Regions from separate parts of the Homo sapiens genome. Here regions 1 and 3 are each linked to region 2. The links come from fine-mapping of genetic effects on gene expression. A gene starts in region 2. Each other region holds a variant in brackets. All regions are shown on one strand. Distances are from middle to middle. Region 1 has its middle 47 kb from the start of ECE1-AS1. Region 2 holds the start of ECE1 (endothelin converting enzyme 1). Region 3 has its middle 26 kb from the start of ECE1-AS1.

Evidence for each region. PIP is the estimated chance that this variant, and not a neighbour inherited with it, causes the effect. A credible set is the group of variants that fine-mapping cannot tell apart.
Region 1: its variant is the best candidate, but not a certain one, in a credible set for the expression of ECE1 in whole blood (INTERVAL, PIP 0.65).
Region 3: its variant is the best candidate, but not a certain one, in a credible set for the expression of ECE1 in whole blood (INTERVAL, PIP 0.80).

Annotation. Positions count from the first base shown.
Region 1 is chr1:21,338,563-21,342,738 of GRCh38, forward strand. It overlaps a transcript of ECE1 not described here. Among named protein-coding and RNA genes, the nearest start is that of ECE1-AS1, 47 kb to the left of the region's middle. RefSeq lists an enhancer at 1-881. The variant C/CG (reference allele first, on the strand shown) is at 2,380.
Region 2 is chr1:21,288,147-21,292,146 of GRCh38, forward strand. It overlaps ECE1 (endothelin converting enzyme 1), which reads right to left and starts at 2,317. Exons shown (of 19, transcript NM_001397.3): 1 at 2,218-2,317; 2 at 1,924-2,010. The coding sequence starts at 2,268. RefSeq lists an enhancer at 761-1,322 and silencers at 1,999-2,168, 2,219-2,398.
Region 3 is chr1:21,317,373-21,321,574 of GRCh38, forward strand. It overlaps a transcript of ECE1 not described here. Among named protein-coding and RNA genes, the nearest start is that of ECE1-AS1, 26 kb to the left of the region's middle. RefSeq lists enhancers at 1-487, 488-1,305, 2,124-2,941 and a silencer at 2,694-2,933. The variant G/A (reference allele first, on the strand shown) is at 2,026.

The DNA of each region.
Region 1 (4,176 bases), 51 kb after region 2:
TCTGAATGAGAGTATTATACTTGTCATCCTGCATGTCATTACTGAAGACGGCCCTGGAGTCAGTCTGCTCCAGCCATGTCATTTCACAGATGGGAAGACTGAGGCCCACGAAGGAAGACCGTGGTTCAGGAGGACAAGGATTAGTGGCAGAGCCTGGGCTGGAAGCCACCCTGGCCTTGCTTTCAATGACCAGATCAGAGCCTGGGAGCGGGCCATGTGCAGCTGGATGGGCAGCTGGAGGGAGTCAGGCAGGGAGGTGGGAGGCTCTGCTTCCAGGCAGAGGTAAATATTGACATGACTGTGTTTACGCTGTAACCTAACTCTGCCTGGCTGCTGCCCCAGGCCCACCCTCCTGCCTTCCCAGCCAAGGAGGGAAGGGAGCTGTGGGAGGAGGATGGGGAGAGGAGGCTTCTGGGCCAGGGGCTGCTCCTCCTGCTTAGAGGGCTATGTGGTCAGAAAGGCTGGGACATCAGGTGTTAGGGGTGGGGGTTAGTGGAGACCCAGGCCAGGGGACCAGGTGGTGCCAGACAGGGAGGGGCTGTTATCTGAGCTGGGGAGCTGGGGATCTCAGGGCGGGGGACTGGGCTGGGAGTCACAAGGCCTGAGTTCAAGTTCTAGTTCTGCTACTGATTGGCAGTGGGAATCCAAGAACAGTCGGTGAATGGGGAAGAAAAGGTCTAACTGTCAAGTGCGGTGCAAAGGTGAACAATAAATAACCAGCATTTGAGCCTGGCCAGTGTCCAGCCCCAGTGAGCTCTCAACGCCTCTGGCTACCGGCTCAACAGTCCTATCCCTGTCCCAGTGGGCTTTCCCAGGAAGGCCAAGTTTCTGCCAAACTGAGTGGCAGCTTGGGACTGAAGCCATAATAATCTAGAGGAATCGGGGAGCCACTGTCTAGCTCCCGTCCCTAATTCCCTAAGTGACCTTTGAGCCTCAGCTTTTACAACTCTGAAATAAGGCTCACCCTCCTCCCTGGGGTTGGTGTGAAGAGCAGAGATTACATTTAAGTGCCAGGCACATAGTAGATGCTCATTTTGTCTCTCAGTCTTCCCACTTGTCAAACAGGGGCCTCGAAGTTGGTGGTTCCTAATCCCCTTTTCATACAAGCGCTCTAGCGTCTTTAGAAGGCCCAGAAGCCAGGCCCACCTCCCTGATGTTAGATCCCCACCTAGCCGATTTCCTGAATGCTCTCTAGAAACTTGCTCCCCTGTTTACACCTCCCCCCAGGAAGTCCAAAGGGGCCCTGTTGGGAGGAGGGAGCCATTCCTAGGCTTGTCAGCCCACCAAGACAGGCCTGGGGCATCCCAGCCACTCTGCCCTCAGGGGCCCAAGGAAAGGGCAGGCCCCAGGTCCTGGACTCCAGTGCCACCCTGACAGTGGGGTTCCGCCAGCACTGGTTGTTCATTAAACTGTGCCCCTCAGACTATTAACTCTTCAAGGACAAGTGAACCCCCCTCCTAATTTTTTATGTGTCCAAAACTTGGCGTCTAGGAAGCATTCCACCAAGTGTTAACACCTCTTCTGGGAAGGCTTCCCTGATACACACCTATGGGCAGGATGACTCTGGAGCTGCATCCCCAGGTTGGCACATAGCATTTTCTACCTTATTTCAGAGCGATCTGGGAACTTGTTCTTTCTCCTCTATTAAAGGCTCTGGAGACCAGGGCCCTCGGCTGGTTATCTGCCTGAAAGGATGAGGGGAAGGGTCAATACATTCAGGAGAAGGGGCTGTCTGGGACCTCTGTCTGGGGCCACAGCCTCCTTCTGTCTTCACTGACTGCTCTGGGCAGCATGCCAGGGGCGTGGTTTGGGCTAGAGGAGGACTGGATGGTGCCTGCAGCACCACCTTTCTCCCAGGGCCACTTCAGGTGCCTCCTCACTGGTTTCCCAGCCTTCGGCCTCACTCCTTCTACTCAATCACCACAAAGCAGCCTGTGACCATCTCAGAATGCAAATCCGACCGTGTCACTCCCCTGACTCTAAACTCCTCAGTAGGCTGGGTGCGGTGGCTCACACCTGTAATCCCAGCACTGTGGGAGGCTGAGGCGGGTGGATCACTTGAGGTCAGCAGTCCAAGACCAGCCTGGGCAACATGGCGAAACCCGGTGTCTACTAAAAAAATACAGAAGTTAGTCGCATGGTGGCACGCCTGTAATCCCAGCTACTCGGGAGACTGAGGAGAATCACTTGAACCAGGGAGGCTGAGGCTGCAGTGAGCTGAGATTGCACCACTGCACTCAGCCTGGGTGACAGAGCAAGACTATGTCTCAATAAATAAGTAAATTAATTAAATTTAAAAAATAAACTCCTGAGTGGCTCCCCACTGCCCTAAGGATTGAGCCCCAGGTCCTTCATATGACCATCCCTGAGTGCACCCTC[C/CG]GGGCCACCTCCTAAGCACAGTCCTCCGTGCCTCCAGATGAACCATCCCTGAAGGCACAGCGGTCTGTACTCTTGCACATTCTGCTCCCTCCACCCCCCGCCCCCCAACACTCTTCCCAGTCCCACTCGCTCTTTAGGTTATGATTTTAATGCCATGTGCTCAGGGAGCCTTTTCTGATCCTCAGGTCAGGTTCCCGGTCCAATCCCACAGCCCCCCGCGTGTCTCCCTGACAACAGTAATTGCGCTTGTAATTTCCTGCTCTGTATCTGTCTGCCTGCCTGTCCATCAGACTGTGGGAGAGAGAGACCTATCAGTCTCACTCACACTGACCACGGCCCCCATGCCTCGTGTTGTGCCAGACAGACTTGTTTGGTGAGTGAGTGAATGAACAAATGAATGAAGCCCTTTGACTATGGCAGGAGGCTTACCCAGTCAATTGGAGAGAAAAAAATTGAGCAGAAGCACAAAAAATTGTAAACATTTGCTCATGGTTCCTCTCTCACCGTAGACATGAAAGTGTGGACTTGGCCAAGCTGGTTTTCTGGGCTAACGCCCAGAACATTCTGCCAAGCCCACCTTGTAGCCCTCTCATGCCTCAAATCCTGTTCTTCCCCTGGCCTCCCCAACTCTGCAGGGAAAACAATGTATTTATTCTTTAACAAAAGGTAACAACATCCTTGTTTACCAAAAGAGTGTAGCAATGTAAGGAGGCCTCAGTAGCCCAGTCACCAGCAGGGGCACAGGCTGCCCAGGGTGAAGTACGCACTGTGCTCTGGGAGCCCCATCTGGAGTGGCTGAGAGGCACCAGAGTGACGTGGGGGCATGTGGTTAGTCTCCTATCTTCAAACAGTAACGCTTCTCCCTACCTTTTTTTTTTTTAAGATAGGGTCTCACTATGTTGCCCTGGCTGATCTTGAACTCCCGGCCTCAAGTGATCCTCTCGCCTCGCCCCCGCAAAATGCTGGGACTACAAGCGTGAGCCACTGCCCCCGGACTCCCTCACATTCTTAATAGTTCCCACAGTGTTTCTACATACATTGTACCCTCACAATATCTGGAGAAGTGGAGCAAATCTGCCCCACTTTGTAGGAAAGGGGGCACAGAGCCGGGGAATGGCTGACCCAAGGTCACACAGCAAGCTGGTAGTACATCAGGATTCAAACCAAAACCCTGGGCCCTGTTCTCAACTCAACTGCTGTATAGTAAAGAGCATTCCCAACCCTCAGCGGTAGCCTCAACTCAGCCCCAGCTTGGAAAGTGAAGGAACATTCTCAAGGTGCCACAGCTGCAGATGGGGGATGATGGGTTGGGTCTCCTTCCCCCAACTGTCTGCCAGGTTACCCCTCCAAAAGTCCAGGAGGTTTGTGCCTGTTCTGGTACTATCTTGCTCTGTGACCCTGGGCAACCTCCTTCACCTCTCTGTGCCTGCTGCAGGGTGGTTTGAGTACAACCGGAGGCAGGAGACATAAAAAGCCTCCTCAGAACCCTCGGCCCACGGCTTGCACTGGGAGAAAACAGGGGGAGACGGTCCATCCGAGGCCCTTAAGAACAGCACTGACTCCCTGCCAAGGGGTTAGAGACGTGGGTGGGGAGCTGGTGACCATCAGGGAGATTCAGTGAGGACAACAGGAAACACATCACACAGACACACAGACACACACAGATACACACACACACACACACACACACACACACACACACACACGCCCTGCAAACGCGCCGCATTAGGAACCCAGGGGCCAAGGACAACTTGGCCACACTGCAAAGAAGTGAGTGCTGGATTTGTTTAAAAGCCG
Region 2 (4,000 bases):
CCTCTTTGCCTTTTCCTGCAAGGAAAGTGGAAAATGTATCCATTTGGGGACAGGACACTAACTCCAACCATAGACAACAGCGACGTGACCCCAGGAATGTCTCTAACCTCTCTTTGTCCCTCACCTTTATCATCAATAATGTGGCCACGCCAGCCCTTACTTCATGGGTCATAAAACAATAATCCTAGCAGGCTGCATATAATATGTATGACATCCACTTTCTCTAACATCCATTTCACAGTGAGGCCATCACCACTGAAAGAGATTAAGCCACTAGCCCAAGGTCGTGAGTGGAGTAAGAACTCAAACCCGGGTCGCTGGCTTCAGAGACGGGGCTCCTCCTGCTTGGCCGGGGGCCCTCCCCAGAGAAATGTGCTATTTCATCTGAAAAAGGTTATACCCCAAACAGGCTGCTGTGAGGATAACAGCAACATGGCATTATTACTTTGCTGTGAATTCTGAAATGCTTTTGTGTTGATATATTTAGACCCTTCTGTGGAAGATGAGACTGAAAAACATTGCTGATTAGATTCTGTTTTGATTTGAGAAGGGAAAAGCACCTGCCCCAGAAATCTAATTTCCTGCTGGCTTCAGCCTCTTAAGAAGAGTCCACTGGGAAGAGGTTTGAGACAGACAGGGTTTGACGTGTCGCTCTCGGATTTTTAGCTCGGTGACCGAAGGCCAGTGGTTGCCCCTCTCAGAGCCTCAGTTTCCACATCTGTAAGTGGGGACAGTAATCCCTACAGGTCTCAGGGGTGTTCCTGAAGGTTAAGCAGGGGTACCACACATCCCAGTGGGTAGAGCCCTTGGGACTGTGAGTTTGGGTCCCCTGGGCCTATGTGACCCTGGAGGAGGAACTCCATCAATGGTGTCTCCCTGCGCTGGGAGGATTATTCCCGCTTCTAAGAGGCGTATCTGAGTGGAGTGGGCCTGGCAACTAAGCGTCCATTCATCCTAAGCTCGCCTTTGGGAAGAGTTGTGTGCCAGTTCACCAAGTGGCCCCAAGATTCTCCCAAATACTTCCCTTGGTCTACCTGGCAGAAGTCCTCCGAGAATTGGGGTGCCCCAGCTCCTCTTTCTACACTGGCTTCTCAAGAGCCAGATCACTGGGTCTCCTAGGGTGTCCGCAGCGTTTCCAGCACCTTCCCACGCACCTGGCTGGCTCCAAACCCCTCCAGCACTGAGGTCTTGGCCACAACTGTCCCAGTGCAGCCCCCCAGGGACGGGAGGGCAGAAAGCAGCCTTGCTCAATGTCCTGTTACAAGGCAGGGACGGGGGTGGGGCCCTCCCCAGGAGTGGGCAGATGGGATGCCCACGGGCGGAGACCCTGGGGAGGGGAGGAATTGGACTTCCTTAGTAGGCTGGAAAAGGGGCAGGGAGAGGGGGCAGAGAACAGGTTTCTGGCCCCAGGAAACTCAGGTATTGGGAGGGCAAGAGGAAGAGGGTGGTACTGCCTCCCGGATAAGGTGACCAACTTTCCCAGTTTGCCCCGGACTGGGGGAGTGGGTTCCAGGGATGCAGGGCTTTCCACGCTAAAACAGAAACAGCCGTAGACTCTGCCGGTAAAGGGCCTGGGCAAGTCCCGGGACATGCACAAACTGTGCCTTCTGTGGAAAGGGAACTGGACCAGTTCGGGTCTCGGGGGTGCTTTCAACTCTGCCACCTGGGCTGTGGCCCCAGAAGCAGGTGGCCGGGAGGCTCTAGGGATGGCGGGGGCAGGTGAGGGGAGACTGGTGGGCTCCGGAAGGCTTCTCAGCGCGGAGCTCCAGCTGCGGGGAGGCGCGGCCCCTCCCGGATGCCGGGACGAGGGAGGGGAAGGGAGGGGAAGAGGCGGGGTAGGTAGGGGCGGGGGGCGCGGCAGCGGCAGCGCGCATGCCCGGGCCCGGGGCGCCTGGACCTCGGGAGGGAGCGGAGGGCGCCTACCTGCAGGCCGTTGGGGTATGCGTCGCCCTCGGAGAGCGAGTCCACCAGGTCCTCCTCGTCCAGCGTGGCCCGCTTGTACGTCGACATCTGCAAGGCCAAATGCAGCACGGACTCCCTCAGCGCCTCCATGGCTCTCGCGCCCGAATGGGGAAGCGGCCCCGACCCTGGCGCCGCCGCCGCCGCGCCCCGCCCCGGCCTGGACACCCGAGACCGAGACCGGCCCACGGAGCGGCCCGCGCGGGGAGGGGTCCCGCCCGCCTCCCGCCCCCGCCCTCCAGGCCGCGCCCGCCTCACCCCCAGCGCCGACAGCAGGGCGGACACCGGGGGCGGCCACACGCCCCGCATGCTGTGCCCCAGACGCCTGGTCCCGCTGCCCGGGTGGCCGGGATGGGATGGGCCGGGCCAGGCGTTGCACCACCTTCGCGGGCGGGGCCTGATCGGTTCGCCGGCGCCCGGTTCCCAACCTCCGGCCTCCCGGGGAGACCCCAAGACCCGAGAGGCCCGGGGGAGATGGGGACCCCTCCCTTCCCCGGAGGTCGGGAGTGGGGGCCCCCAAACTGAAGCCCCTAGCAGGCAGGAAAGGCCCTCACAGTGACCCCTCCTTCGAGAAAATCTTAAGTCCCCCTTCAACAACCGGGTCCCCAGTGGCAGATAACAAAAGTATCAGGAAGGTGCCCTCGATGTGGCCCAGAGCAATCAAGACAGGTTCCCCCCGGCATCAGCCCTTAGGTGTGTCTAGGGGGTTAATGCTAGAAAGACCAGACAAAAAAGGTGGGGTAAAAAGGTAGGTGTCCCCTTTCAGTTCCCCTTTCTAGCTCAGAGGCCTTTAAGCCAGAGTTCGTGAATGAGTTTCAGAAAATTTCAGAGAACTCCCTGACACGGGATGAAAGGAGCTGTGTGTGTGCATTTGGATGGCTGCAGGGTGGTCCGGTGGTCACCCCCGTGCTCAAAGGTGTCGCCCTCCCTGCAACACAAGAGAACCATTGCTCCAGGGGGAGTCAGAAGCCAGGAAGGGGACCCTTCTTTCCCATCTTCCCCCTCAAGACTCGGAGCCTCAGCCAGGTGCCCCCCTCCCCAGCCCCTGAGCCCTCTCCTATAACCCTAGGCAGGGAAAGGGGGCTCTCTCGGATATGAGGTGTTCAGTTAGGGACTCAGGCCCAGCACTGTCCCAACCAAGAACCCCAGAGAGGTCTAACCCAGCAGATTTCCAAAGGACTCTCCGCTTCTAGCAAGGCGGGAATCCCTGCATTTATGCGTACTTTTCAGCTTTGCAAAGTGCATTTCTGCTCATTCCAAATTTGATTCTCACAGTCACACATATGTGTGAATAAACAGGTTTAGAGGGGTGAGGGGCCTGACGTCACAGGGACAGTGAGGGCAATGGCTCCAGATGGTCTCCTGGCTTCCACTCCTGCCCTCTGACAGCCCCCTCAGCAGCCAGGATGAGCCTTTAAAATGAAATCTGGCTGAGGCCAGGCACCATGGCTCGCTCGCGCCTGTAATCCCAACACTTTGGGAGGCCAAGTTGGGTAGATCACTTGAGGTCAGGAGTTCAAGACCAGCCTGGCCAACATGATGAAACCCCATCTCTACTAAAAATACAAAAAATCAGCTGGGCCTGGTGGCATGCATCTGTAATCCTAGCTACTCAGGAGGCTGAGGCAGAAGAATCGCTTGAACCCAGGAGGTCGAGGTTGCAGTGAGCTGAGATTGTGCCACTGTACTCTAGCCTGGGTGACAGAGTGAGACTCCATCTCAAACAAACAAACCACAGAAATCTGGCTGGGTTCAGTGGTTCACACCTGTAATCCCAGCACTTTGGGAGGCTGAGGCAGGAGATCACTTGAGTCTAATTCTAGGCCAGCCTGGGCAACACGGACCCCATCTCTACAAAAAGAAAATATATATATATATATTTATATATTATATATTTTTAATTAGCAGGACGTGGTGGTATGCGCCTGTAGTCCCAGCTACTTGGGAGGCTTAGGTGGGAGAATCGCTTGAAGCCAGGAGGTGGCGGCTACAGTGAGCTGTGATTGCACCACTGCACTCCAGCGTGGACGACACAACAAGA
Region 3 (4,202 bases), 29 kb after region 2:
GCTGTTGGGAGGGTCTCCCAAAATGAACAGACAGAGGGGAAGGCCAGCTCGCAGGCCTCAGATGGGGAAAAGGGTTTGCTTGTCACAAGGCCAGTCCAGCCCGCGGCGACGCTGAGCTGGTGACGCATCTGCAGCTCTGGGGATTGAGCAATCTTGGTCCCCTGACCGGGATGGAGTCATGGGCCCAGGCTGGCTGGAGCCCCTCTACTGCTCCCCACCCGCTTCTCAGACTTTGTGTTCCTGGCCTTCTTGGGACCCCTCCAGGCTGGCAGCCACACCCTCCCCTCTGTGAGCTAGGCAGGAAAGCCCGGTTCCATTCCTGCCCAGTTCTCTTCGGCCTCTCCTGAGCCCCTGCTCCCCAACTCAAGGTGGGGTCCTAACCACCTTGCATCCAAACAGATCCTCTGGAGACGCACGAGTGGGTCAGGGCAGTCAAGAGCTGTGCAGGCTCAGACAGGTCATGTGACTTCTGTAGGTCCCTGGCTTTAGCAGGTGTGGCCGAAGGTGTGGGGTGCCAGTGTCTGTCTCCTGGTTCAAATCCAGGCTCGGGGTGTGACCCCAATGTTCTTGAACTTAAATCAGAGCCACCGCGATCTCTTTCTCGAAGTGGGGACAAAACACATGCAAAGCAGGGCCTGCCCCTCCAAGGTGCACCTTGAAGGTATCAGACGGCATGGACGAGGTCCCCTCGCTGGCTGCTGTGACGGTTAAACGATTCTTCCCAGCTCTGCACAACTCAAGTGATAGCTGTTGGACTCGGAGATGAACAAGAGTGAGGGAAACGGTGGGGGAGAGCAGTGGGCAAGACCTGGCGTGGCAAGTGGGGAGCAGGAGGCCCTCGTGTGGACTCGCAGAGACCCAAACCCAATGAAACAAGTACCCTGCTGGCGCATGTGCAGGAACTGATCAGCGTTCCTGAGGGCCCAAGGACATTTCCAGGGCACAGCTTGGGGAGGGCAGCAGAGTGGGAGCAGCTGTGAAATTGGGTTTCAGGTCATGACGCAGTTGGGGAACTTATTTCCTTCATCCCTGCCCTTTCCTGACCCTGTCCCACTCCCTTAACAAAGGTCAGCCTGGCCTAGGGGTGTCCTCCCTGGAGACCTCCCCTCCCTTGTGCCTCAGCCTCTCACTGTCTTTGGGGCAGACATTTCTCCGCTCTGGGCTTCAGTTTCTCTATCTGTAAAATGGGTGGGGTGATATTTCAGGCCTTAGCAACTTCTAAAATCCCATTTTTTGAAGATTTAGAACCAGTGAGCCTTCCTGAGGCCCACTTCACAAGCCTATCCAAGCAGAGGTGGCAAAATCCTCCTCCCTGGGTGAGAGGCAGGCGACACCCCTGAGTTGGTCACACCAGCCTTCCAAGGAGCTAACCCGACCTGACAGTCACTTCAGCCTGGCCAGGCCCCCAGGCAGTGTGCCAAAAAGCGGACGGGGGAGGGGATTTGCAGCAAGAGCTACAGCTCCCCAGAGGCCGCACTTCTGTCGGGGGAGACGCTGAGCGAGGGTCAGAAGAAAGTCAGCATGGGAAATGTGACGTCAGCAGAGGCAGATGCGAAGGAATACTATCCGAAAATGCTTCCGTAAACTCACCCTCCCAGGAAGCCAAATTCTGTGGGTTTTCAGTGGAGCTGGGTCTGTACAATCTCCCGGGCTCCGTTTTCTCATCAGCTAAGTCAAAATAATAAAGTGAGGCCAGGCACGGTGGCTCAAGCTCGTAATCCAAGCACTTTGGGAAGCCAAGGTGGGTGGATTGCCTGAGCTTAGGAGTTCGAGACCAGCTTGGGCAACATGGTGAAACCCCGTCTCCACTAAAATACAAAAAAGTAGCCAGGCGTGGTGGTGTGCGTCTATAATCCCAGCTACTTGGGAGGCTGAGGTGGGACAATCGCTTGAACCCGGGAAGTGGAGGTTGCAGTGAGCCGAGATCGCATCACTGCTTTCCAGCCTGGGAGACAGAGCGAGACTCCGTCTCAAAATAATAATAATCATAATCATAATCATAATCATAATCATAAAGTGGACTAC[G/A]CAGGGCTTTTCTAGAGACATGATAAGACCTCGTGTCTAAATGGCCTGGTACATACTAGGGCCTCCATAAATGCCGGCTCCATGCTGCCCCCACCTCTGTCCACCAGGGCACCCCCGGCACCAAGGGCCAGACTCCCTCTGCTGCCCCCAATCTGCTTCTCAGACTTTCTGCTCCTGGCCTTCCTGGGAGCCCTCCAAGCCAGCAGCTGTGCCCTCCCCTCTGTGAACTGGGCAGGAAAGCCAGGCTCCATCCCTGTCCAACTCTCCTCAGCCTCTCCTGAGACCTGGCTCCTCATTCTCGCCACTCCCTACCAGGCACCGGGAGGCACGGCTCACTGTTCCCTAGTTTGTCTTGGTCCCCCAGAGGGCCAACAAGCAGTCTGGGTGTTTACATTAGTTCAGCTGAGACAGGCTGAACAAACACACGCGGTCCCATGGCTTCTAGTGCCAGCCCCCACACACCACTCGCCACCCAGGCTGTCTTGAGTCCACAGGTGTCCCCACCCCACTCCAGATCTTCTGTTTACACTCGGCAGCAGCGTCCCATCTTTTGACTTCCCTGGGCCACAATGTAAGAAATATTGTCTTGGGTCACACATAAAATACACCAACGATAGCCGATCAGCTAAAAAACAAAGGTGCATGCATAAATCTCAGAATGTTTTAAGAAAGTTTATGAATCTGTGGTGAGCCGCATTCAAAGCCATCCCAGGTCACATGCGGCCCACGGGCCGCAGGTTGGACAAGCTCATTCACAGATTCTCCCCATGGATTCTGTTTGAGGTTTGCTGCGTCCAGCTGATACCTGGTGAGACACTAACCCCGCCCACGACTATCTCCAGGCTCCAGCCGTCAACAGCTGTATGGGCTCAAACAGGTCACCGGACTTCTCATTTATAAAATGGGGATGGTGACAGGGCCAACCCCACAGAGGACTGCTACGATCAAATGGGATAATGAGAGGTAGGCGCTAAGCACGTTGCCTGCAGGGCTCATGGAAGGTGCTGGAGAAATAAGCTTTTTAAAAAAAATTTAATACTGTTTTATGAGTAATTGAAGAGTTTGGCCAGAAGTCAGTGGGTCCTGAGAATACAACCTAAAAATAAGTAGAAAATTCTTGGCCAGACTGTGCTAAGCACTTTCCATGTATTATCAACGCCTCGCAGCAACCCCAGGAGATATGGTATGCCATCATCCTTCATTTGCATAGACAGGGAACTGAGGCTCAGAGAGGTTGAGTCACTCACAGGGGGTCACACAGCTCCCTGAAGGACGCACGTGTCTGTTCCAGAGCCTGTGCTCTTATCTTCCACACTCACCCAAGCTCCTATAGGGGCCGCAGCCTCATCTCTGTGTCTTTCTTCCCCACCCTTCCTTCATTCTGCGGAGGGTTCCTGAGGTCCCCAGCCTCCTCTAGGCCATGGAGTCCTGGGAGCTGCCAGCAGCGTGGAGCTCGGCTGTGCAGCCTCCCCTGCCTACTGCCGAGGTGGTGCCTTGAGGAGCTGTGATGGTCTTCCCTTGCCCTGGGTCTGAGCCTCTAGGATCCTGCTGCTGCAGAACCTCCTGGTTTGGAAAAGGGGAAAGGAGCTGTCTGTAACTCATCATTTAACCCATGCCAGGCACCGCGCAGATATTTTCCCACATAATCTTCATGATCACCCTGTGCTGGAGGTACTACCATCCCCACTTTACAGAGGAGGAAACCGAGGTTCCAAGAGGTGGTGTCACTTGCCAAGGGTCCCAGAGCTAGTGCGTGGCGGAGCTGGGGACTCAAACCCAGGTTGCTCTGACTCAAAGCCCACAATCTTGCTGCTCCCCAGGCTGGCCCCTGCTCCTGGGAGAGATAAGACCCCATATAAACAACCCTAACATAAACCAGAAAGCCAGGCAGGCCTTCAGGAGGCCCAGATAACAGCTGGGAAGATACACAAAGAGGGGCTCAGACTTCCTGGGGAAATCTCTGTGTGAATAACATAAGAGGAATTCTCCACTGGGAGGAGCAGCCCTGGGGCCCCCAGCAGCCATGTCCTGGAAGAGGGTCTGTTGGGGACCTAGGCCTGACCACAGGAAAGACAATTTCCAGTGCAGTGGCCCATGGGTGCCTTCACAAGTAATCAATATGGAATGAGCACCTACGGTGTGTTGGGCCAGGCACCAGGCTTGTCATGCACTTATTA